3 separate regions of the Homo sapiens genome follow, and all the other regions are reported to be linked to region 3. Evidence: microRNA targets listed by miRTarBase, many of them from high-throughput screens and not tested one by one. Region 3 holds a microRNA gene; each other region holds the end of a gene's coding sequence.

Region 1 (7,635 bases), not on the chromosome of region 3:
CAAACGTGGGCATTCTCAGACCACAGAGGCTTCGGGAATGGCTCTTGAAGCTGTTGGAAATTTAGCAGTGGGGAATTCTAGGCTTTTACCAAACAGTCTTTTCTTTTTTTGGTGGTAAAATAGACATGGCATAATATTTGCCACTTTAACCATTTGTAAGTATAAGTTCAGTAGTATTAAGTCCGTTGATGTTGTTCTGCAACCACCACTACCACCCATCTCCAGGGCTTCTTCATCTTCCATGGCTGGAACTCTGCATGCCTTAAACACCAGCTCCCTCTTCCTCCCGCCCCAGCAGCCACCATTCTTCCTTCTCTCTAAGAACATGACCCTCCAGGGACCTTGTTTGAGTGGAATCACACAGTTATTCGTCTTTTTGTGACTGGCTTGTTTCACTTAGCATGCTTTCCTCAAGGTCCACCCATCTCGTGGATGTGTCCGAATGCACTTCCTTTTTAAGGCTGAATCAGTAACACTGTGTGTCTACACCGCACCTTGTCCCTGCTGTCATCCATCAGTGGACACTTGAGTCACTTTTGACTTTTGACTTACTATCAATAACATTGCTATGAACATGGGTGTACAACTCCTGTATTTTTAAAACAATGTGGTTTAAAAAATGGTTTTCAGCATACAAGAAACAGCCACCCACTGCTGTAGATGGCCTGTGACTCTGTCCAAGAGATTTTTTTAATTATGTCCTTTAAATTGGGAACCAAGACCACTGGCTTCATAACCAGTGGCTGCATGTTATGACTGGGCACCCGTGGTGACTTCATTTGAGCAGAGGCAATTGCAGCACCAGGCGCTGGGTGTCTCTCCCAATGCACCTGGACCACTGTAGGCGCTCCCTGCCTGGCTGACTGAGGTGTCACTAACGGTTTCTCTCTTCTCGCACCCCACCCTCCCCGCCCGTGCCCTGTCCCCATCCCTGTCCCTCCCCACCTCTGCCCCCTCCTCTCCACCTTCTCTTTGCTGGCGCCTCCCGCTCTCCAGTGCGACCAAGACCAGTGCATTCAGAGCACCAAATTCGTTTTGCAGGCTGCAGCCACGCCCCTGCTGCAGAGCGAGCCCAGCCTCACCAGCGACGAGCTGCACCTGCCCGGGAAGCCTGGCCTGGGCACGCCCTGCGCCAGCCTCACACTGGGCCCGCCCACACCGCCCGCCTCCATGCCCAACCTCGCCGAGGCCACGCTCGCGGACGTGATGCCCCGGAAAGATGAGCACATGGGCCACCAGTTCCTGACGCCCGATGAGGCGCCCTCGCCCCCCAGGCTACTGGCGGCGGGCAGCCCCCTGGCGCACAGCCGCACCATGCACGTGCTGGGCCTGGCCAGCCAGGACTCCCTGCATGAGGACTCTGTGCGCGGCCTGGTGAAGCTCAGCTCCGTGTGACCCACATGGCCCCAGGCCGGGGGACACCAGAGGCTCCTCCATGGGCAGCAGGAGTGAGCGGAGGGGTGTGTCCCACAGCGACTTTCCCAGCCAATGCCACGGTGGAGATGACAGCCCCAGGTCTGGGGTACAGAGACCACTTAGGATGGCACAGGGTGGCTGGCCCCGGATGCTGAGAGCTTGGTTTCATTTGAATTTTCTTCCCCAACCTGAGTGCTTTGACAACAATGGAAATAGAGAAGTGGCTGCTTTCTTTTGGTGACCCTCCAGGGGTGGAATCGGAGTGTGTCTGCCCGCCCTTGTGACAGACACACGGAAGGCTTCTGACGCTTGTGGCCAGACTGCAATTGCACTTATGTGTTATGCTACTAATATTTGAAACAGACCTGCCATTCCATTTGTTAATTAAAAAAAAAAAAAATCCTAAAGGGAAAAAACCGACCAGGTGTGGATCTGCATGCCACGCTGCCGTCTGTGTTACAGTGGTGTTGCTATTTCCAAGGAAGTGCTGCTTTCTTTTTCTTTTTTTAATTTTGTGAATTTTCAAGTGCTGTTTTGTTGGAAGACAGTGCAACGAACTGAGACTAATGGACAGTGTCATCACTCAGCTTACTGGGCTGAGGCGTCTGTGGAGAGGTGGCACCGGGGCTGCAGAGGGCGGCTGGGGTTCCGTCGTGTCGGGTGTCACTTCACCTTCTGTTTGGCCGCTCGATGAGGTCTCGTGTTGAGATATTGTGTGCCACAACCCCCACAGTCTTCACCTCCGTGTGTGATGAAACTTCCCGTGGACAGCCAATAAAATGACGTCCTCTGTTATTTTGGATCTGCGTACGGTTATCCTTAATAGCATAAATGAAAACAAAGTCATCCAGATGGGGAGAGTTTTTCTTGAAATGTCCCTAGCGAGGAATGGTCCCCAGACAACCAAAAGTCAAATCTTTGAACTGGGAGATATTTATAGAATAATTTCTTAGATAAGAGGCAAGTTTTCCATCATTTATTTTCTTTAATTATCTCTTTTTGACACCATCTTAGTGGAATTTGCTCTACGTTTGCAGTTTGCCGTGCAACAGTTGATCGGAAGTAGGGAGAGGGGAGGGGACGCTCAGGGAGAAGGTTCTGTCGGGCGTCTTCTGGGCTTCCTTCTGTGTTAACGTGTCACTCAATCCCAGAAGTGCAACTTGAGGTCCTAGTAAAGGTATCAGAAAATGAGGAGGAGAAATCGGCTTACAGTCTAAGCTGAGATCATGTAGGTCATCATCCTTCCTAGACACTGATCAGAATGAAATTAAGAAAATGACCACTTTGTTCACTTTCATTGGTCACCTAGAAGGGAACGAACTGGCTCTGGACTTAGGGAGTGTGTCACTATGGGGGCAGCCACAGGGGACACAGCAACTCCTCTCCTGGCTTCTTTCCAGACCATAAATCTAACAGCTAAAGCTACTCAAGTTCAAAGCCATGGCCTTGCTCCTTATAACCATATGAAAGACAAGACACATTGACCAATGATACAAGTAACCCAAGTGATTTGCATTTATGGAAAAAGGCTATTACTCCTGAGAAAGAGTTGCCATTTTATATAAAAGAAAAGAAGATAGGAAAAAGAAAAGCACACAAGTTTTATTTGGAATGAAGGCAATTCACAGGTCACAAAATAATTCATGCTGAAAGGGCCTGCAGAGTTCTTGCACTGTGATGTCTTCGAGCCATCTTTATTGTCATGCTGCATGCACGTATAGAAAATGGAATAGGTCCATTCTATGTAGCCATTTTTGATTTTCTGAACCACCTAACTACTTGTACCCACCTGCAATGTGTAATTCATGGGGCAGTGCCCTCCTTACACAACCGCACACGCTCACAGGCACCAACTCACAGGGATTCTCCTTGTCCACGCTACCTGTGAGCCCAAAGTGACAGCCCCACAAAGGAGCTTCCACAACTTCCCAAACCGTCTCTGCTCCTTGCTTTCTTCCACCTGCTCCCCAGAGGCCCCAGGAAGGAGTTGGCCCTGATGAGAACGGTGCTCCATGGGTGACCGCGAATCCGGCTTAGCCCTCACTCCGGTCCCACGTGTGGCCCAGTCCATTCTCAGCTCATTCCCCTGGAAAGCAAGATCATGGTCTTCAGAGGCCTCCCGCTTCTAACATTTCCTAACTCAGTGGTTGCCACTCTCCTGTGACCAGCCCTTCTTCCCACCTCACTGTGAAAAATTCCCAGAAGCCAGGATCACGACTCACTTGTCTTCACATAATGGATATTTACTTAATATTTATTATCAATTTCCCCACCTCCAACCCTGTCCCTGGCACACACTTGGCATCATTTATCCAATAGGGGACTGGGAATTTTGGTGAAGTGAATCAAGGCTATTCAGGGTCAAGAGAGAGATTAACTTGAATGGGCCAATTTGCTAGATAATTAATGTCTTAAAAACCAAAACCAGAGAGAAGCCCACAGCCCTGTCCTCTGTGGCTTGAAAAAGAAACCCAGCATCAGAGGAATGAGCGATGATGCCCCCTGGGGCGCCCACTTCTGTTTGTCAGGAGGGATGGTCGGAGGGGCAGCTCACCTGGCGAGGTGATGGCTCTGCATTTCCCACGAACATATATGTGACATGTACATAAATATAAATACTTATGTTTATAAATGTTGAATGGTTCCTTCTAGCTGTGGCTGAGTAGACGTTGGTGTTTCTAACTTCTTTCAGTGTGTTAGAGATTGATTACATGCTAGCTATAAAAAGTAAAATAAATATTTTACCATGCTATTAAAGCTTGGACCATTATCAAACACACACAAACACACACTCATTCTGCTGTTTAAAAATTCATCTGCGTTCGTTCTCCCAGGAGTGCTCCAGGGAACCACAGGCTTCCCGGCACTTGAAGGCTGAACTGAGCGTGAGTGCCCTGGTCCCCAGGAAGCAGGCGGATGCTGCAGGAAGGTGGCAGACAGCCTGCATCCAGGAGGGCCCCAGGAAGTGGGGATGCTGCAGGAAGGCGGCACAAAGCCTGCATCCGGGAGGGCCCCAGGAAGCAGGGGGATGCTGCAGGAAGGTGGCAGACAGACTGCATCCAGGAGGGCACAGTGACCTGTCACTCCGTTCTGCAGAAATTGGCCCAGCAGTTGCGTTATGCCCAACCAAAAGATGCTCGTTCCAGCTTTCAAATGTGATGATTTCAGCCTGTGAGGACAATGCCATGTCCCCACCCTAAGCCAGCAAAATGCGAAATCTCTGTTCTGGCCCAGAATGGCACAAGGGAGGAGTCTTTGCAGAGTTCCACGCCACCCCCCAGCTTACTGCGGCCTTCACCGGCTCTGTCTAGGATTGCCAGCTGTGGTTCCAAGTGAGGAGCAAACCCATTTTATGAGCCATGTTCCTGCGGAGACCTGATGGGCCAGGCCTTCTGTGGCTTTGAAAACCCCTAAGCTCTTCACCTCCTGGGCCTAGGCCTTCTTGTCTGACTCAACAGCAAGAAAAATGAACTTGCCAAAATTGGCAGTAGGTGTCCTTGACACAGGGGCTTCTGATGGCATCGCCCAGAAAATGCTGGAACCAGAACTGGTCAGAGACTTTGAAGGGCACAGCCTGGCGGGCTACTCCCCAAGGGTCTCAGGTCTCTGCCCACCTGACTACCCTGCAGCAAACGCTTCTCTGTAACCTGACTTCTCCCTTCAGACCTCAGCCTACAACCATCCTCTTCATGCCAGGAACCAACTGCTTCTCAGCCTCGGCTTAGGGTCTTAAGTTCACCAGAAGGGATCGGGGTTTGCGTTGATATTATAAGGAATCTTCCCAGAAGGAGCTGCCCTTCATCCATCCACAAGAATACATTGAGTTCATTTAGTTCTTGACCAGGTAAGAAAAGAATAAAGGAGAACAAATATTAAATACTCTTTTCTAATTGATGCCTTACTACTGTTTTGAAGCTGAGCCGAAATCAAATTGATGTTTACATTTTCTATCAAGTACACATGAGCTGTGGGAGTCTAGCATATTCTTGTCCAAAAGAGAGAGACTTTCAAATGAATTCCTATTCCTCTTGGTCCCCTCCACCTATTTTGGAGGTCTGCATGTGGAGTTGTATGCTATTTTCCAAGGTACCTCATTTAAAAAAAAAAAAAAAAAAAAACTGCCTCTCATTTGTTCCCTTAAAACGTCTCTCTCTCTCATAAAACTAAGTTATCATTGAAATATTAAACGATCTGAAGCGTCTTTTTTTTTTTCAAATAAATGTCAAAGATGGTAATAGTTTGTAAATCAGTAAATCCTCTGTCCATCTGCCCATTGTCCATGGTCCTGATAATAGAGCCAAGATGGATTTTCACATGTAAGGTGTTAGTCCATTAATCCAGCCATTAAAAGTAGTTGGGAGATTGAAGATTAGATGGTTTCTGGAGCAACCGAATTTGCAGCTGCCACAAAACTAGATAAATAGCCACAACTGGAGTTATTTTTTGATCTCATAAACCCCAGGAATTACACACAGAATGGATTGAAAAGCAGACAAGCATCTTGTGCTATTGCAGAGACTTTTCTACCCAGGAAGTGTTGAATTTTTAAAAGAAACTTGATATTGGTGATAAAGGTATGAATGAACAACTCTCTTACTTGCCCTCGATGTTTCAAGATGCCTGGTGAAACCGAGAGGCCACATGGCATGTCCAAGGAGACATGCTTTCTGGGTTCTATATGAATAGAGATGGTTTTAGCCTGCAATTAAAAAAAAAAAAAAAAACGGTTGAAGCCTTGCTAACTTTTTCCCAGAGCATTCTGGGTTGATATTTCACAGTCAAACGTTTTGGCATGGAAAAAAAAAAAAGCATTTTAAACTCTTAGTGAATTCAAAGCTCTAAATCCAAACAATGGTGAACACATGTACATAACATTTCATGTTTTCAGAGATACGTATGCTTATTTAAGTGCCTTTCATGTTTTAATCAATGTTTGCAGAATTTATCTTAAACCTGAGATGAATTAAAAAATTTTTCTCCTTCAATAAAAACTGCTAATGGCATAAAATGTAAATTTCAGCCTTTATAAGGTAGATATCGTCTTGGTCAACAAGATGTGTGGGGAAGGGAGGAATCGACTTGCACTCAGTGAATATGCACGTTGTGGACACCCATCTGTATAAGGATGAGGGTTTTCTGATCGTAGATACCCAGATTGCTTTCCTCAGACGTGGTTCTCAAGTTTCAATTCTACTTTAGAGCAATGCAGAAATTTAAAGTCCCTAATCCAGCATGTTCTATATGCCACCTTTTAACACATGCACACGTGCGTGGGCACACACACACCAGCCTCACCAGAGAGGAACTGTGCTTGGCTACTCATAACAAAATCCCCAAATCACAGCAGCTTAGGAAAAGAAATGTCTTTTCTGTATGCAAAACAAGTGCAGAGGTAAGGCAATCCCGGGACATTGTGGTGGCTCTGCAGTGTCATCAATGTCCTGGCTTCCTTCTCTCTGTTCTGCCATTCTTAGCACTGGCTCTCATCCTCAAGGTCACTTCATGGTCACAATACAGCTGCTACAGTGCCAGCCATCAAAGCCATATCCTTAGGTTTTCTATTAAGTACGTATGAGCTGTACATATGAGTCTAGCATATTCTTTTCCAAAAGAGAGAGACTTTCAAATGAATTTCTTTTCCTCCTGGTTCCCTCCACCTATTCTGGAGGTCTGTGTGGCATTGTAAGCTGAAAGAAGGAGAAACGGGGAGGAGCAAAATGGGTACAGACACTTATGACTGCTCCCTTTAAAGAGCATTCCCAGAAACCCCAATCTATGATTTTTCCATGATTGAAATTAAGTCACATAACCACTGCTGGCTAAAAAGGAGGGTGGGAAGCTTGGTGTTTTAGCTGGGCACATTCCTGCTCCAAATAATATTGGAGGTCTGTTGGTCAGGAAGAAGGGGAAAATGAGCATTCACTAGATAATCACAATAGAAAATTCCATCTCCTCCATTAGTGCAAGAGTGACACCCTCCAGCTAGAGCTCTGTCATCCTTCTCTTCCCCACTAAAAAGTTCTGCCTCATCCATCTACTGTTCTCTCCCTTTAGAGAGCATTCCTACCTGCTAAAGTAGGCTTGACCCCATCTCCTGCATGACCCAGGACCCAGCCCCTTCTCTCCTCCGTGACCCAGGACCCAGCCCCTTCTCTCCTCCATGACACGGGACCCAGCCCCTTCTCTCCTCCATGACACGGGACCCAGCCCCTTCTCTCC
Region 2 (7,635 bases), not on the chromosome of region 3:
GGCCCCCAAGAGGGCTGTGAGCAGGCACCTTCCTGTGAGGCACGATGCCACCATGTGAAGTTGTGTGGGTCTTTGGAGAGTTCTGGCAGGTTGAGGGCCTGTGCGTGTGGGACCCAGGCCTGCCCTGCCTGCTGCCGGCCATGTTCCCTCTGCCCAGTCATGTTGACAATTGTGGCCAAATTCAACATCGGGCCTGTTTCCTGCACCCACGTTGGCACACACTGAGTTCAAGACAGTTTCTGCAGAAATGAATCCAGAGGTGTTTATTTCTGGCACGTTGGATCAGACGTTCAGAGGGTGGGCGTCTTTCTCCATGCACTTCAGCTGGATCAGTCAGTGTCAGCCATTGACTTTAGCAACAGGGAAATGAAAGACTTTCCTCAATAAGAAATGGGACTTTCTCACGCTGGATGGCACAGAGCTGGCAAACATGAGGCCAGTCCACACCAAGGCTTTGCCTGCAGAAAGGCTGCACTGTGGCCAGCGGGGGAAGCGGAGGAGACACCTGTGGACACCCTCCCCACAGGTGGGCACACCTTTGCGCAGGCCCAGTGTGCGTTCTGAAGGAGAGCCCAGGGTGGGGTTCCGGGACTGAGGTGCAGCCGTGTCCAGGGTGGGCTTCTAGCTCTGCCGCTGGGCGGAACTGGGGTAGGTCCCAGGGTGGGGTTCCAGGACTGAGGTGCAGCCGTGCCCAGGGTGGGCTTCTAGCTCTGCCGCTGGGCAGAACTGGGGTAGTCCCAGGGTGGGCTTTTAGCTCTGCCGCTGGGCGGAACTCGGGTAGGTGGGAGTCCTCACTTCTCTGCAGGGTGGTGAAGCTCTCTGGGTAGTGTGAGCAGTTCTCAACGTGCACCTTGGAAAGCGCCCGTTTTGAGGTTTAGCTGTGGCCAAGATAGATGACTTCATTTTGTTGCTTTTTGTTCTTAACATGGGGAGATATTTAGAAAACATGTTTGGCTCTTGCTGGGGAAGCAGTGCTGTTCCGTACAGTGTTTTACAAGCCGTGTTTCCTTAGGATTGAAAGAAGGTGGCAAGAGGAAGAAGCAGAAGCAGAGAGAGGAGTCGAAGAAGAAGAAGTCGACCAAAGGCAATCACTAGACCGGACTTGAGGCACGCGGTGCACCCCCAGACGCTGGCGCTCCACCGTGCTCGGCATGCGGTCGTGCACACGCGCTAGGTAGCAGCGTCGGTCAGGACTGTCTCGAGGCCACACTCGCTCGGCAGGATTATGCGATCACGGATCAGTCAGAGCAGGGTCAGGAGACGGGGCTGACGGCACGGGTGGCGGGGACAGACGTTTGGGACTTGGCCGCGACTCTCTGCTTCTCTCCAGCTCTCAATCTGCTGCATTTTCCTCTAGTGCTTCCGGATCCTCTTCATTCTTTTCGGCTACTCAACCACTCCGCATGCTGCTGGAATATTTCTGGCTTTAGAAGTACAGGAGGGCGCAGATGGCTAACTGAGTAACATTCATGAAATGAGGCTTTCTGTGGCGGCGTAGTGTTTGGAATTAGAAGGTAATTCAGTAGAGTGTAACTTAGAGAATATTGCAAGTGACACATTGAATCCTGCCCGTCAGGGCACCTTTTCCTCAGAGCAATCCGGCCACACGAATAGAAGGCTGTCGTGAATCACATCAGATGTAAAATCATTCCTTCTGTTTACTCTTTTAATTTTCATCCTTTGCAGGTAGTGCAAATTCAACTTCAAATATGGTGTAGGTTTTGCTAGATTCCATATTTTTTTCTTGGATTTTTGCTAATTATTTTTAGCAAAAAATTTTTGCTCAGTGGCACTCTCCCTAGTGTCCATGGGTTAGGGCCATGCTGGGGAAAACGGGCCGGTATTTACACACGCGCAAAACACCCAGAGACGGCACAAGGAGGTTGAACTCATGTTTCAGTTCGCGAACATTGACTCCTTACGAAAGTCACTTCATTCTAACTAGATGCGCCCACTTCCGGTCATTATTTCGTTTGCATGATGTATTGCTTCTTCACGTTTTGTTTTTATTGAGCACGGAGTAGAATTCCAGGGCTGCCTTGACTTCTTCCCTGCATGCTCCCTCCCAGTGACTTTCCTTCCCTTTCACATGAGGATCTGCCGTTCATGTTGCTTTCTCCTTTGTCCTCTTGGACTTGAGGGCATTGTGAAAAGCTTTGCTGTGATTTAAAAATGCCAGCAATTTTAATCTAGCAGTGTTGAAGCTGGGAATTTTTTGGCGCAATCCATGTAGCAGTGACCCAGGCTTGGGAGCCAGAAACAAGTGTGACCTGGGATTTTATTTAACACAACTGTTGCCAAAGAGTTGGCTTTGTTTATTTGGTTTTGGCGGGGAGAGGAGTGGTATTTGATGCTTTCTGTGGACAATGTAACCCTAAACACATCATGTATTTTAAATGCCACCTACATAAATAAAACATAAGCATATTGAATACAGCTCGCCTGCTGTCCTTTGTAAGCGCCAGTAAGTTGCACCGTTAAGACTGACTAGAAATAAAAGCAATTCTTCAACATTACGATTACAAAGGATGAAAGTGGTGTTTTGCAGGCAGAAGCCTTGCTTCCGAAATGCGTCACTGTAAGGCGAAAACATGACTTTAAAGCTAACACCCCCGGCTGGGCAAAGTGGCTCACGCCTGTAATCCCAGCACTGTGGGAGGCCAAGGTGGGCAGATCACCTGAGATCAGGAGTTCAAGACTAGCCTGGCCAACATGGTGAAACCCCATCTCTACTAAAAATACAAAAAATTAGCCGGGTGTGGTGGCACACGCCTACAATCCCAGCTATTCGGGAGGCTGAGGCACGAGAATTTCTTGAACGAGGGAGGCGGAGCTTGCAGTGAGCCAAGATCGCACCACTGCACTCTAGCCGGGAGACAGAACGAGACTCCGTCTCAAAAAAAAAAGGCCGGGCACGGTGGCTCACGCCTGTAATCCCAGCACTTTGGGAGGCCGAGGCGGGTGGATCACGAGGTCAGGAGATCCAGACCATCCTGGCTAACACGGTGAAACCCCGTCTCTACTAAAAAATACAAAAAATTAGCCGGGCGTGGTGGCGGGTGCCTGTAGTCCCAGCTCCTTGGGAGGCTGAGGCAGGAGAATGGCGTGAACCCGGGAGGCAGAGCTTTCAATGAGTCCAGATTGCGTCACGGCACTCTAGAGAGAGCGAGACTCTATCTCAAAACAACAACAACAACAAAAAAGTAACACCCCAACGCACAGATGAGGTGGAAACTCCCGCAGCCTTCACAGGAGGCATTGAGGGTCCCGAGAGGAAAACCTCGTCGACTCACCCTGGCTCTGCTGGCGACCAAGACTGGGCCAGACACGCGCTCAGTGCTGACATCCTGGCGTCCGGCCTTCCTGGTGACAGGGGAAGGCGGTGCAGTAAGTCGCCTTGCGGGCCGGGGTCGGGGGTGTTTTTAAAACAAGATTAGTCCTTCTCAACTGCTCAGATCCCAGAATCTGCTGCTGAGATTGTGGCGAGGGAGGCAGGTGGTTCGACAGGTTTAGAGGTGACTGTTGTGCCCTCAACCCTGCCCACTTGACCCTCAGGCCGTCCCAGGAGCGTGGCCGGGCTGCCTCAGCAGGGGCACAGCTAGGGAGCGTGGACAGAGCCGCGAGCGCCTTCCAGACAAGCCAGGCCACACACAAGACAGGCTCTTGGCAAAGGGGCCAGAGCCCCGTCTTCACACGGCCTGGCTACCGAGTCAGCTCATGTCACAGGTGGGTCCTCCCTTCGCTGAGAGGGAGAGACCCCGACCCCAGGAGGAGAAGGGAGCTGGTGTCCATGGGGCCCGGCAGGTGCATGGCCAGCAGGTAGGCATCTGCTTCTCAGGTGAGGAGGGGTATTGGGGTCTACCCGACCCCTGCGCCCAGCGCCCCATCCCCCTAGGGCGGGTCCAGGAGCTCTGTGCTGCAGATAGAGCCCGCGGCTGCTTATGCCAGCGTCTGCTGAGGGGGTGGATGCTGCAGATAGAGCCCGCGGCTGCTTATGCCAGCGTCTGCTGAGGGGGTGGAGAGGGAGCCCGGCCCCTGGGTGTGCTCGGCAGCTGCTGAGATGATGGCAAGGGGGAGCGCGGCACCTGTCGTCGTCACCTTTGTGACGTCCCAAGCACTGGGGGGCCCTGCGGGGGGTGGGGAAGGCAGTGAGGTGCTGGTGGGTGGGAGGCAGGGGGGCTGTGGACGGTGTGGCAGGGACTGCAGTTGTGGGACTGGGGTGGGGAGTCCTGGGGGTGTCAGGACCACAGTGGGGCTTCCTGGCCACCCCACTGCCAATCCCAGGGCCACCCTGTACGCCATTCACTTTTGTCAGGGGCATAAAGGGCTGCAGAACCCACTTTCTGTAAGTAAATACATTTAAACATCCTGAAACGTTCACACCCTAACCCTAACCTGGGGGTCCCACGTGCCTTCCCTCATGTGGGTTGCACAGCTGGAGACAGAACCAGGACGTGGCGCCGTCACCAGGGAGAGCTCTCTGCTCTTTTGTTCATAGGCCTGGAAAAGTGGGACCATGACGTGAATAACCACACCTGTGTTTAACACATTTTGTTTTGTTTTTGTTTGTTTGTTTTTTTGCAATGGAGTCTCACTCCGTCACCTAGGCGGGAGAGCCGTGGCACCGTTATCACACCTCAGAAAATTAGTAATTCCCCCATGCCAGCTACTTCTCAGTCCATTTTCAGAAACTATTTACTTTTATTCTTTTCTTTTTTGAGGCAGAGTCTCACTTTGGCACCCAGGCTGGAGTGCAGTGGTTCAATCATAGCACACTGTACCTTGATCTCCTGGGCTCAAGCGATCCTCCCACCTCAGCCTCCCAACATGCTGGGGCTACAGCTGTACCACCATGCCTGGCTAATTTTTAAATTTTTTATAGAGACAGGATTTCACCATATCATCCAGGCTGGTCTCAAACTCCTGGGCTCAAGCAATCTGCCTGCCTCAGCCTCCCAAAGTATTGAGATTACAGGCGTGAGCCACTGTGCCTGGCCCGTAATTTTTTTGTTTGTTTTTTTTTTTTTTTTTTTTGCAGGAGACTGGAGTTTTATTGTTACTCAAATCAGTCTCCCCGGGCTGTGATGTTTTTAAACTAGACTTCAGTCAAGACTACACATTGCATTTAGTCGTCACGTGTATTAGGTCTCTGTACGCTTTTACCTTTTATTATGAAAAATCTTAATGTCCAAATTGTGTGCTTGGAACAGGTAACTGTAGAAATGAATCCCTCTCCCTGGCCCAGAGGTGCACAGCGCCCGCCCCTCTTGTGTATCTGCACCCCCTCCCCATCATGTTTTTTTGTTTTTGTTTTTGTTTTGAGACAGAGTCTTGCTCTGTGGCCCAGGCTGGAGTGCAGTGGTGTGATTCGGCTGACTGCAACTTCTGCCTCCTGGGTTCAAGCGATTCTCCTGCCTCAGCCTCCGGAGTAGTGGGGACTACAGGCGCCCGCCACCGTGCCCGGCTAATTTTTGTATCTTTAGTAGAGACGGGGGTTTCACCATATTGGCCAGGCTGGTCTCGAACTCCTGACCTCAAGTGATCCACCTGCCTCGGCCTCCCAAAGTGCCGGGATTATAGGCGTGAGCCACCGCACCCGCCATCATGTTTTGAAGTAAGTCCTGGGCTATGCATGACTTCATCTGTCAATATCTGACCTGCCTTTCCTCCAAATTTCTTAGCTGGAATTCTGTAAAGACGGATTTTCCCTTATCCACTGCTTGGGTCCCAGAGGTACAGTTTCTGCTTCAAAAGGCCCCGCACATTCTTGTTTTTCCCGAGTCCCAGTGTCTAGAGCCACTGGCTGGCTCCCTGGCTCCTCCGAGGACCCCGAGGTGACCAGCGGCTCTGTTAGTTCCATCGTGAGCCCACAAGCTGTGATCGCACTTGTGGTGTTTCACGGTTGAGGCCATTGCCCTTGGAAGCTCGGATGGCCGCATCCTGGGGCGACAGACTCCTCGGTGCCTGCAGTTCGTGCTGGCCTCAGGGCCTCGGCTGCTCTGGGTCCTGCCTGGAGACCCCAAGGCTGCCTCTGTGGACGGAGGGAGAGAGTATTTTTTAAAGAGAAAATTCATATTAGGATATATAATATAAAGAATTTATATTAATATTTCCAGTTCAAATTTAGGATTACAGGGTTTTCACTATTTAGATTTTATATCAGATTTTTTTCTTTTACTCTGAGAATTTGAATTTTTTTTTTTTTTTTCAGATGGTCTCGCTGTGTCACCCAGGCCGGAGTGCAGTGGTGTGATCTCGGCTCACTGCAACCTCCAACTCTCGGGTTCTAGTGATTCTCCTGCCTCAGCCTCCCGAGTAGCTGGGATTACAAGTGCCCACCACCACGCCCGGCTCACTTTGTATTTTTAGTACAGATGGGATTCTACCATATCAGCCAGGCTGGTCTCAAACTCCTGGTCTTAGGTGATCCACCCGCCTCGGCCTCCCACAGTGCTGGAATTACAGGTGTGAGCCCACCACGTCCAGCCAGATTTTTAGTTCTTAATACATAACATAGTTACTTATTTGACATATAGAAAATTTGATATATAGAAAATATAATAATTTAAAAATTTAAAAAAATTTTTAAAATTCAGAGAGAGCTCTTCGATCCTTTTTCTCTTTCTTTCTTTCTTTTTTTTTTTTTTTTTTTTGAGACGGAGTCTCGCTCTGTCGCCCAGGCTAAAGTGCAGTGGTGCGATCTCGGCTCACTGCAACCTCCGCCTCCCAGTTCAAGCGATTCTCCTGCCTCAGCCTCCCGAGTAGCTGGGATTACAGGCATGCACCACCACGCCCAGCTAATTTTTGTATTTTTAGTAGAGACGGAGTTTTGCCACGTTGGCCAGGCTGGTCTCGAACTCCTGACCTCAGGTGATCCACCCGCCTCGGCCTCCCAGTGCTGGGATGACAGGGGTGAGCCCCCGCGCCCGGCCCCATGGTTGTTCTCAGGCTGTGACACTGGGATGCATAAATCTTGAGATAATCCCTCTTGGTGTGGCTAAGCCAACAACTCCGTAGACCCTTAGCTTCATTTATTTTCTTTTACTTTCAACGTCTAGGATTTAAGAAATGTTTGCTGTAAATATGTGCATGGTTCCAAAGCAGAATTCACAAACAAGGCGCCCTCAGGGGAGTCCGGCTTCCGCACCTGCCCCAATGGGCTTTCATTTCCATTTGTTTTTATTTCCTTCCATTTCAATACATTAAACATAAACAAAAGTTACTTTTATTTATAACTTAATTACATAATATTTAAATAAACATGAGGCGATCCTTCACTCCCGCCTTTGCTTTTCCTTCCTGGGCGTCTGGAGGGCCGTGCGCCTCACCGGCAGACCTGCCGCATTCCGGACCTGCCCCTGCCCCCGCCCCGAGTTGCTCACCTGGATCCTCTGCCCCCTGTGCAGGTCCTGGGGGCCGTAGGACCTGCAGTCACACATCTGGGCCCAGCACAACCCGTGCGTGGGGCAGGAGACGCGGGCACCTCCTCCTGTGTGGCGGAGCCCCGTGCGCACCTGGCGGTCCTGCTGGAGACGCTGAGTGCAGTCACCGTAGGGGTGCTGGGGCCATGCTCCTCCAGGGTGTGGAGGGTCTCTCACCTCTGTGCTGGCCCTTCCACTCTCAGAGACTGGTAGC
Region 3 (7,635 bases):
TCAGCTGAAGATTATTACTGCATTTTAAAAGTATTCTTAGCAGAATGCGTGGCTCATGCCTGTAATCTCAGCAGTTTGGGAGGTTGAAGCAGGAGGACTGCTTAAGCCCAGGAGTTTGAGACCAGCCTGGGCAACATAGTAAGACCCCATCTTTAAAAAAAAAAGTATCCAAGTGTGGTGGCATGTGCCGGTAGTTCCAGCTACTGGGGAGGCTGAGATGGGAGGATAATTTGAACCCAGGAGTTTGAGGCTGCCATGAGCTATGATCACACCAGTTCACACCAGTGCACTCTAGCCTGGGTGACAGAGTGAGATCTTGTCTCGAAATAAAATGAAATAAAATAAAACTTACCAGGCTGGGTGTGGTGGCTCATGCCTGTAATCTCAGCACTTTGGAAGGCTGAGGCAGGTGGATCTCTTGAGCCTAGGAGTTCAAGACCAGCCTGGGCAACATGGCAAAACCACATCTCTACAAAAAATAGAAAAATTAGCAGGGCTTATGCTTATGGGCACCTGCAGTCCCAGCTACTTGGGAGGCTGAGGTGTAAGGATCATCTGAGCCCAGGAACTGAAGGCTGCTGTGAACAGAGATTCCACCACTGCACTCCAGCCTAGGTGACAGAGTGAGACCCTGTCTTAAAAAAAAAAAAAAAAAAAAGACTTACGAGGTTCAAGTTCAACAGAGCTTAAAGGTTAAACAAACAAACAAAAAAAAAACAAGAAAAAACAATGGAAAACTTATCAGAGTAATTCAGGAATGGGCTGTCTTCTCCCTCTTTGGCCCCCCCTTTTTTTTTGTACAGTCACTGTAGTTTTTTTTGTACATCACTGTAGATTACATTTAATAAAAGCAAACTCAATAACAACTTGTGTAAACATATATATTTTTAAGACTATAGATCAGGCACAGTATCTCATGCCTGTGATCCCAGTGCTCTGGGAGGCTGAGGCAGGAGGATGGTTTGAGGCCAAGTGTTCAAGACCAGCTTGGACAACACAGCCAGACTCTCATCTCTATAAAAACAAAAACTGCCCTTAGAGCTGTTCTCTCTGGTTACATTGTTTCAGATTACATGCTTTTTCAGGACCTTTGGTCACTTGGATCCTTTGTATGTATCTTCTCTGTCAACATGTATCTTCTCTGTCAACATGTATCTTCTCTGTCAATTAGAGGATAGGGAATGGTTTTTTTCTACCTATTAGTGTTCATGTTGATGGACAGATTGCCTGAGGAGTACTGATGATGCATTTGGAAACTTGTGTTTTATTTCCTTCAGGGGAGCCAGGAAGTGGGACGGAAAGTGACACTTCTCCAGACTTCCACAATCAGGAAAATGAGCCCAGCCAGGAGGACCCTGAGGATCTGGATGGATCTGTGCAGGGAGTGAAACCTCAGAAGGCTGCTTCTTCTACTTCCTCAGGGAGTCACCACAGCAGCCATAAAAAGCGAAAGAATAAAAACCGGCACAGGTCAGTGGCAGGGATCCCACCCCCGCAGCTCCCATGACCATTGCTGTGAAGGGAATTGCCTAGAATAAAAACTCTTTAGGATTGCTGCAGACTCTTTCTGTTGCTGATGGCAAGAAAGTCATTAGGTCCAAGTGAACGGGCTAATTTGCTCAAAGGGAGGAATTGGTGGGCATTAGAGTAACCCTCAAGGAAGACTCCAGGACATTCTTCTCACTGTTTCTAGTGTAGAATAGTTTTATTCCATAAAAACCTTGTTTCATATGGTGAATATGGAATACTTTTAGAAGAGGAAAAGGAGAAATAGAAATGGAATCTGTGTAATAGTATTTGAAAAATGCCACTGGTACTTATTGGGAAGCTGTAAAGTGGGATAAAGTCTTCTGCTGGTAATTCTGATCTTTGCCTACTCTTATTTCTTTGTGGATGGAGAGAACTGATTTGACATGCCTTTTTTTCTCTTTAAATACAAGTTTTTTTTATTGCTTGTGATTTTTCTGTTTCTGTATTTCTCAGCAATATGCTGACTTCAGATACTGGAGGAACAGTATAAAGCCTGTAAAATATGAGAGTGTCTTCATAGGTAACGTGTAACATTGGTGCACCATGTTTTTTTGCAGTACATAATGAGATAGGAATGACGTCAGTGGACAGAGAGGCCAGGTGTCACCCAGAGAGGGTTTCAGCATTCACTCTGCCTGGGGTTTGTATGATCATGCTGGGGATTGTTAACTCAGATAATTGGAAATTATGCAGCTTGACCTAAAGAGTATAATGTCCGGTTTCTAGAGTAAGGAGTTTTGCTGGCCTCAAGCCTTCCAGGAGAAATGGAGACCCTATACATACCTGTTTCCATGCCTCCTAGAAGTTCCGAAGCCAGGGTAAGAGTTCTCATTCTAGAAACTGTACATTCGTTCTACTCCTCCTGGAAGACTGCGTGCTGAGCAGGTGAAAGGGGGCAATGCAAGGGATGGGTGGCATTCCCTGTTCTCCAGTTTGCTTCTGGATTTGGTTTACAAATCTGTAGGGTATTCCTTCATGCACCCAAGGTATTAAACTTGTTAGCTTCATGGATATGACAGTGCCTGGGGGTAATGTAGGATTAACTCTACCTGATTTGAACCTCCTTGATTGGCGTCAGCTGGTTCTTCAATTATTTTAAGAGTTTTTCTTGTTGATGGTAATGGTGTTTTCTAGACTGCAGAAATAGTATTTCCTTCAAATAATGACTGAGGACTGCTGCTTAACATTTTTCTGCAAACCAGAAGTCACCATCCTAATCGCATAACTGTAGTAAGAATTAGCAAAAATTGTATATCTACCTCTTCATATATTTTTGAAAGGCTATAGGTTATTTGACCAACTGTAGTAAGACTGGTGCTAGCTTATCACGAATAACAGAGAAATATATTCTTAAAAATTTTTTTAATTGTCAAGATAATTAAATGTCATGCTCTGTATTGCTTTTATTAAATTTACTCCAGTGTCATTTTTTTTTAATTTTTTATTTTTTTCAGACAGTCTTGCTCTGTCACCCAGGCTGGAGTGCAGTGGCACGATCTCAGCCCCTGCAGCCTCTGCTTCCTGGGTTCAAACGATTCTCCTGCCTCAGCCTCCTGAGTAGCTGGGATTACAGGCGTGCACCACTGTGCCCAGCTAATTTTTGTATTTTTAGTAGAGACACGTTTCACTGTGTTGGTGTGAACTACTGGCCTCAGGTGATCCACCTGCCTCGGCCTCCCAAAGTGCTGGGATTACTGGCATGAGCCACGGTGTCTGGCCTAGTGTCATTTTAAAGTAGTGATTATTTTCTTATTTCATAGTGTCTAGAGTAGGGAGGAAACTCTTTGAAAGTTTCGGGGACTTTTTCCCATTACTGATTAATAGTCTGTAGATAGCTGTTTATTTCAGGTAGTTCTTCATTTCCACTAATGATGTTATTAGCTGGTGACTGATAAAAAGGAGTTAAAGAGGAGCTAAACTTCATTTTCTTCTTGCAAGTTTCTAGCACATTTCCATAGGAACAATACTTCTTCCTATCCTAGGAGCTATCTCCTTCCAGAAAAATAGTAGTAGTTGTAAAAATCTTCGATATTAGTTACTGCTTCGCAAATAGTGTTTTCTGTTTGGAAAGCAGAATCCTGCTTTTTATTGCTGTCCTTTTGTCTTCCCTCTGATTTAATATCTGGCTGATCTCCCTTGGCCTTAGGCACTCATCTGCCCCAAGAAAGGAGAGTGAAGCTGATTTGTTTCCTTTCTAGGGAAGCAAAATTCAGTGTGCCTGAATGGCACACGAGCGGTCAGTTAAGGCTCTTGGACTCCTGCCATCTTTAGTCAGGAATTGTGTCTGCTCCAAGTCCCTTACTACTGCTGACTGATATCTCAGTAGGGCTGGCAGATTGGGGTGGGGACAGAGCATGGTGTCTATGTACATTGTTAAGTTTGTACCCAGTATAGTACATGTTTATCCTCCAGTGTGCCATACCCCATATAGTGAGATGAGTCAATAATAAATTATTTCAGCAAATGTTTGAGTACTTACTGTGTGCCAGACACTGTTTAGTGGTGAGCAAAGGTGGAAATAAATATGGCACTTAAGCAAAAGGAAATAACTTGAATTTGCCCTCTTCAGGAATATGAAATTTTTTTTTTTCTTGAAACAAGGTCTTGCTGGATTGCCCAGGCTGGAGTGCAGTGGTGAGATCATGGGTCATTGCAGCTTTGACCTCCTGGGCTCAGGCAATCCTCCCACCTCATCCTCCTAAGTAGCTGGGAGTACAGGCATGTGCCACCATGCCTAGCTAGTTTCTGTATTGTTTTGTAGAGATGGGGTTTTGCCATGCTGCACAGGCTGGTCTTGAACTCCTAGGCTTGATCCTCCTGCCTCGGCCTCCCAAAGTGCTGGGTTTACAGGCATGAACCACACCACACCCCGCCAGAATATAAAAATTTATCAAATAATTTTTAGCATCCATAAGTGATCACATTGTTCTGAATTCTTATATTTTACATGATACCTGAACAGTATGTCATTCCTGGTATCTTTAAAGAAAAAGTTGAAATAATACCATATAGTGGCCAGGTGCTGTGGCTCATACCTGTAATTCCAGCAATTTGGGAGGCTGAGGTGGAGGGATCACTTGAGTCTAGGAGTTCGAGACCAGCCGGGGGCAACATGGCGAGACTCCCGTCTCTACAAAAAAACACAGTAATTAACTGGACGTGATGGCATGCCTGTAGTCTCAGCTACTTGGAAAGATGAGATGAGGCTGGAGGATTGCTTGAGCCCAGGAGGTTGAAGCTTCAGTGAGCTACTGCACTTCATCCTGGGTGACAGAGGAAGACCCTGTCTCAGTAATAGTAATAATAATAATAATAATAATAATAATAATAATAAAAAATAACATAGCTACTCTTATAAGTTTCTGTTACTATAAAAAATTACTTTAGATAGTCTGTAAAGTTTTGATTAACTAGATACAGTCTATTTTGATTTGTGAACAAAGTCAAGTCAGGCTGAAAGTGAAATATTTGATAATTCCTAGTTTCATACACCTACTGTATACTCTCCCAAATGTCTAAAGTGAAACTATTTTGTGAGAGATATTGACATTAAGCTTTCTTCCAGCTTTACTCTTGCAAACATTGTCTAGGAGGAAATGTAGCCATTTGCATATTGTTTTAGCACCTAAATGTAGCCATTTGCTTATTGTTTTAGTCTGGAAGGTGTTGGAGCCGGTGAAGGAGCAGGTGTCATGCTCCAGGTTAATGTTTGCTTTGGAGGCCTGCCCAGATCATGGCCTGCTAGTGGTGATGGCACAAAATGGTCTCCTTCTCTGTACTGCTCCTTCCAGATCCCTGAGACTTGGGTGCTTGTGGATGGCAGCTTTCCCTTGTTTTAATAGGGGTGCTGCAGGCTGGGTGCAGTGGCTCATGCCTGTAATCCCAGCACTTTAGGGGGCCGAGGCAGATGGATCACCTGAGGTCAGGAGTTCGAGACCAGCTTGGCCAACATGGTGAAACCCTGTCTCTACTAAAAATACAAAAATTAGCTGGACCTAGTGGCAGGCGCCTGTAATCCCAGCTGCTAGGGAGGCTGAGACAGGAGAATCGTTTGAACCCAGGAGGCGGAGGTTACAGTGAGCCAAGATTGCGCCATTGCACTCCAGCCTGGGTGACAAGAGCAAAACTCTGTCTCAAAAAATAAATAAATAAATAAATAAATAAATACGGGTGCTGCAGACTTTTGTGTTTCTTAATTATAGCCCTGATATAGACAGTTAATTGCCATCACCTACTTAGGTGGCAGAGCAATACTGTTCTTCATTTTCTGGAACAAGGTTCCACCACTGAAGTTTATTCATTCAACTTTGGGCTTTTAGGATGAATGCTGTAGAAAAGGAGCATGGTGTTCCCTGGACATGTTTAGAACATATAACTTGAGGGAGGCTGAGGCAGGAGAATGGCGTGAACCCGGGAGGCAGAGCTTGCAGTGAGCCAAGATCGCCGCCCCTGCACTCCAGCCTGGGTGCCAGAGCGAGACTCCGTTTCAAACAAACAAACAAACAAACAAACAAACCCATATAACTTGAGTAAAAATTTGTGAAATGTTTTCCTTTTTTAAAGTTTAGACTGTGTTGTAGTTTTTTATTTTAGTGAAAGTATATTATGCTGAGTTGTTAGCACTCTCTTCAAAGTGCCTTTCATTATATAACTAAACCTTTCTTTCTCTGTTTCTTCTAATGCCCTAATTATATTTTTCAATACAATTAAATATTTTAAAAGTTCTAACTCCGAATTTGGCAGCTAATAAAAGGGCTCCAGGTGTCTGAGTTTTCTAATGAAATAACTTTTTCTTTCATAGTCTAGTCTTCTGATATGAAATCCATTGAAGGAAGGGAATCTTCTGACCACAAAATCTTTGGTGCTTTGATGTTTGATACTTTGTTGCTTAAGATTCTTAAAGCTGATTTTGTTTCTACAATTCTTGCTAGGGTGGCTAATCGACTAATTTATTCAATTAGTATATTAATTTCTATTGCTTTCTTCCTTTCAAATGCTGCCCCTCAGCCCGTCTGGCATGTTTGATTATGACTTTGAGTAAGTTTGATTTGAATTAGTATTTGTGCTGTGTTTAGTGTGTAGACACCAGTATGCCTTTTTGAGACCTTTCTAACCCATAGTTTATCTGTTTAATTGTAGGTATGTATATTAGGTTAGGCTGGGAAGTTTTTTTTAAAAACAGAAAAACGTGATGGAGGTAACATTTTATTTAATAACTTAAGCAAAATTAAGTAAACTTCACTTTTATGCATTTTAATTTCTTTTAAAATAGATAACCTTTACTTTAACTCATATTTAAATTGATTTTCTGGCTTTGCTTCATAAGGAGAATAATAGCTTAAGATCTTGATATTTTGCTTTGGAAAGATTTAAAAATTGAAATTAATTTAATTTATTTTGTGTTTCGTGTTCAGAAATACAAACTCCTAGTCTCTTTCCTGTTGTTAATCACCATGTGTCTCAGTAATTTTCAGTGATATAGTTACAGAACTAACACATTAACATAGAGCATGCCCTCTTACTTCAGTCTTTTTAACATGTAGTTTTGGAATTGTTTTAAAATTATATGGCTTTTGTAGCTGCTGTATACATTTCTTTTTAGAGTCAGCTAAGTTTGCCTTAGGGCAAAAATGTGTGCTCATAATTTTTAATACTTGCTTGATAATATCTGGGTAAACAACTAAATATGACATAGTCTAATGAAGAATGTGGATTTTTCTTAACCAAATAGTCTTTGTTATAGCTTATGCCCTATGCAGTAGCTGATTGTGGGACCCATTTTCTGTAAATTAAAATGGAAATATCTTTTATCTTTTCTGTCACAGGATTGATCTGAAGTTAAACAAAAAACCACGAGCTGTAAGTATCAGCCGGACCACTTCAGAGAGGCTGGCAATTTTGTAGATGATTAGAAAAATGTATTTGTCTTCAGAGCTTGAGTGTTCCTAACCTGGAGTCATAACTCTTGATTTAAAGTCTGGGGTGTCCATCTGGATATACTTCAACTTTTAGGTGGTTTTTTTGTTTTTTTTTTTTTTTGTTTTTTGTTTTTTTTTTTTGAGAGACAGTTTCTTGCTCTTTCACCTAGGCTAGAGTGCAGTATCA

The links. The annotated mature microRNA hsa-miR-5581-3p reads UUCCAUGCCUCCUAGAAGUUCC and lies in region 3 at 2,318-2,339, shown strand. An mRNA with a match to its seed (bases 2 to 7 or 8) in the 3' UTR can be bound and repressed. Matches are read on the target gene's strand: a 7mer-m8 pairs with bases 2 to 8, a 7mer-A1 pairs with bases 2 to 7 and ends in A, and an 8mer does both.
Region 1: miRTarBase lists ZDHHC14 as a target of hsa-miR-5581-3p. Seed matches in the 3' UTR shown: 8mer at 6,207-6,214.
Region 2: the mRNA of DNAJB6 is a reported target of hsa-miR-5581-3p. The part of its 3' UTR that is shown has no 7-base or 8-base seed match.

The regions. Positions count from the first base shown.
Region 1 is chr6:157,671,728-157,679,362 of GRCh38, forward strand. It overlaps ZDHHC14 (zDHHC palmitoyltransferase 14), which reads left to right. Exons shown (of 9, transcript NM_024630.3): 9 at 997-6,430. The coding sequence ends at 1,395. Among named protein-coding and RNA genes, the nearest start is that of MIR3692, 150 kb to the left of the region's middle.
Region 2 is chr7:157,415,004-157,422,638 of GRCh38, forward strand. DNAJB6 (DnaJ heat shock protein family (Hsp40) member B6) reads left to right here. Exons shown (of 10, transcript NM_058246.4): 10 at 1,013-2,436. The coding sequence ends at 1,095. Among named protein-coding and RNA genes, the nearest start is that of DNAJB6, 82 kb to the left of the region's middle.
Region 3 is chr1:37,495,639-37,503,273 of GRCh38, reverse strand. It overlaps MIR5581 (microRNA 5581), which reads left to right and starts at 2,280; the gene lies at 2,280-2,339. MEAF6 (MYST/Esa1 associated factor 6) reads left to right here. Exons shown (of 7, transcript NM_001270875.3): 5 at 1,278-1,470; 6 at 7,356-7,389.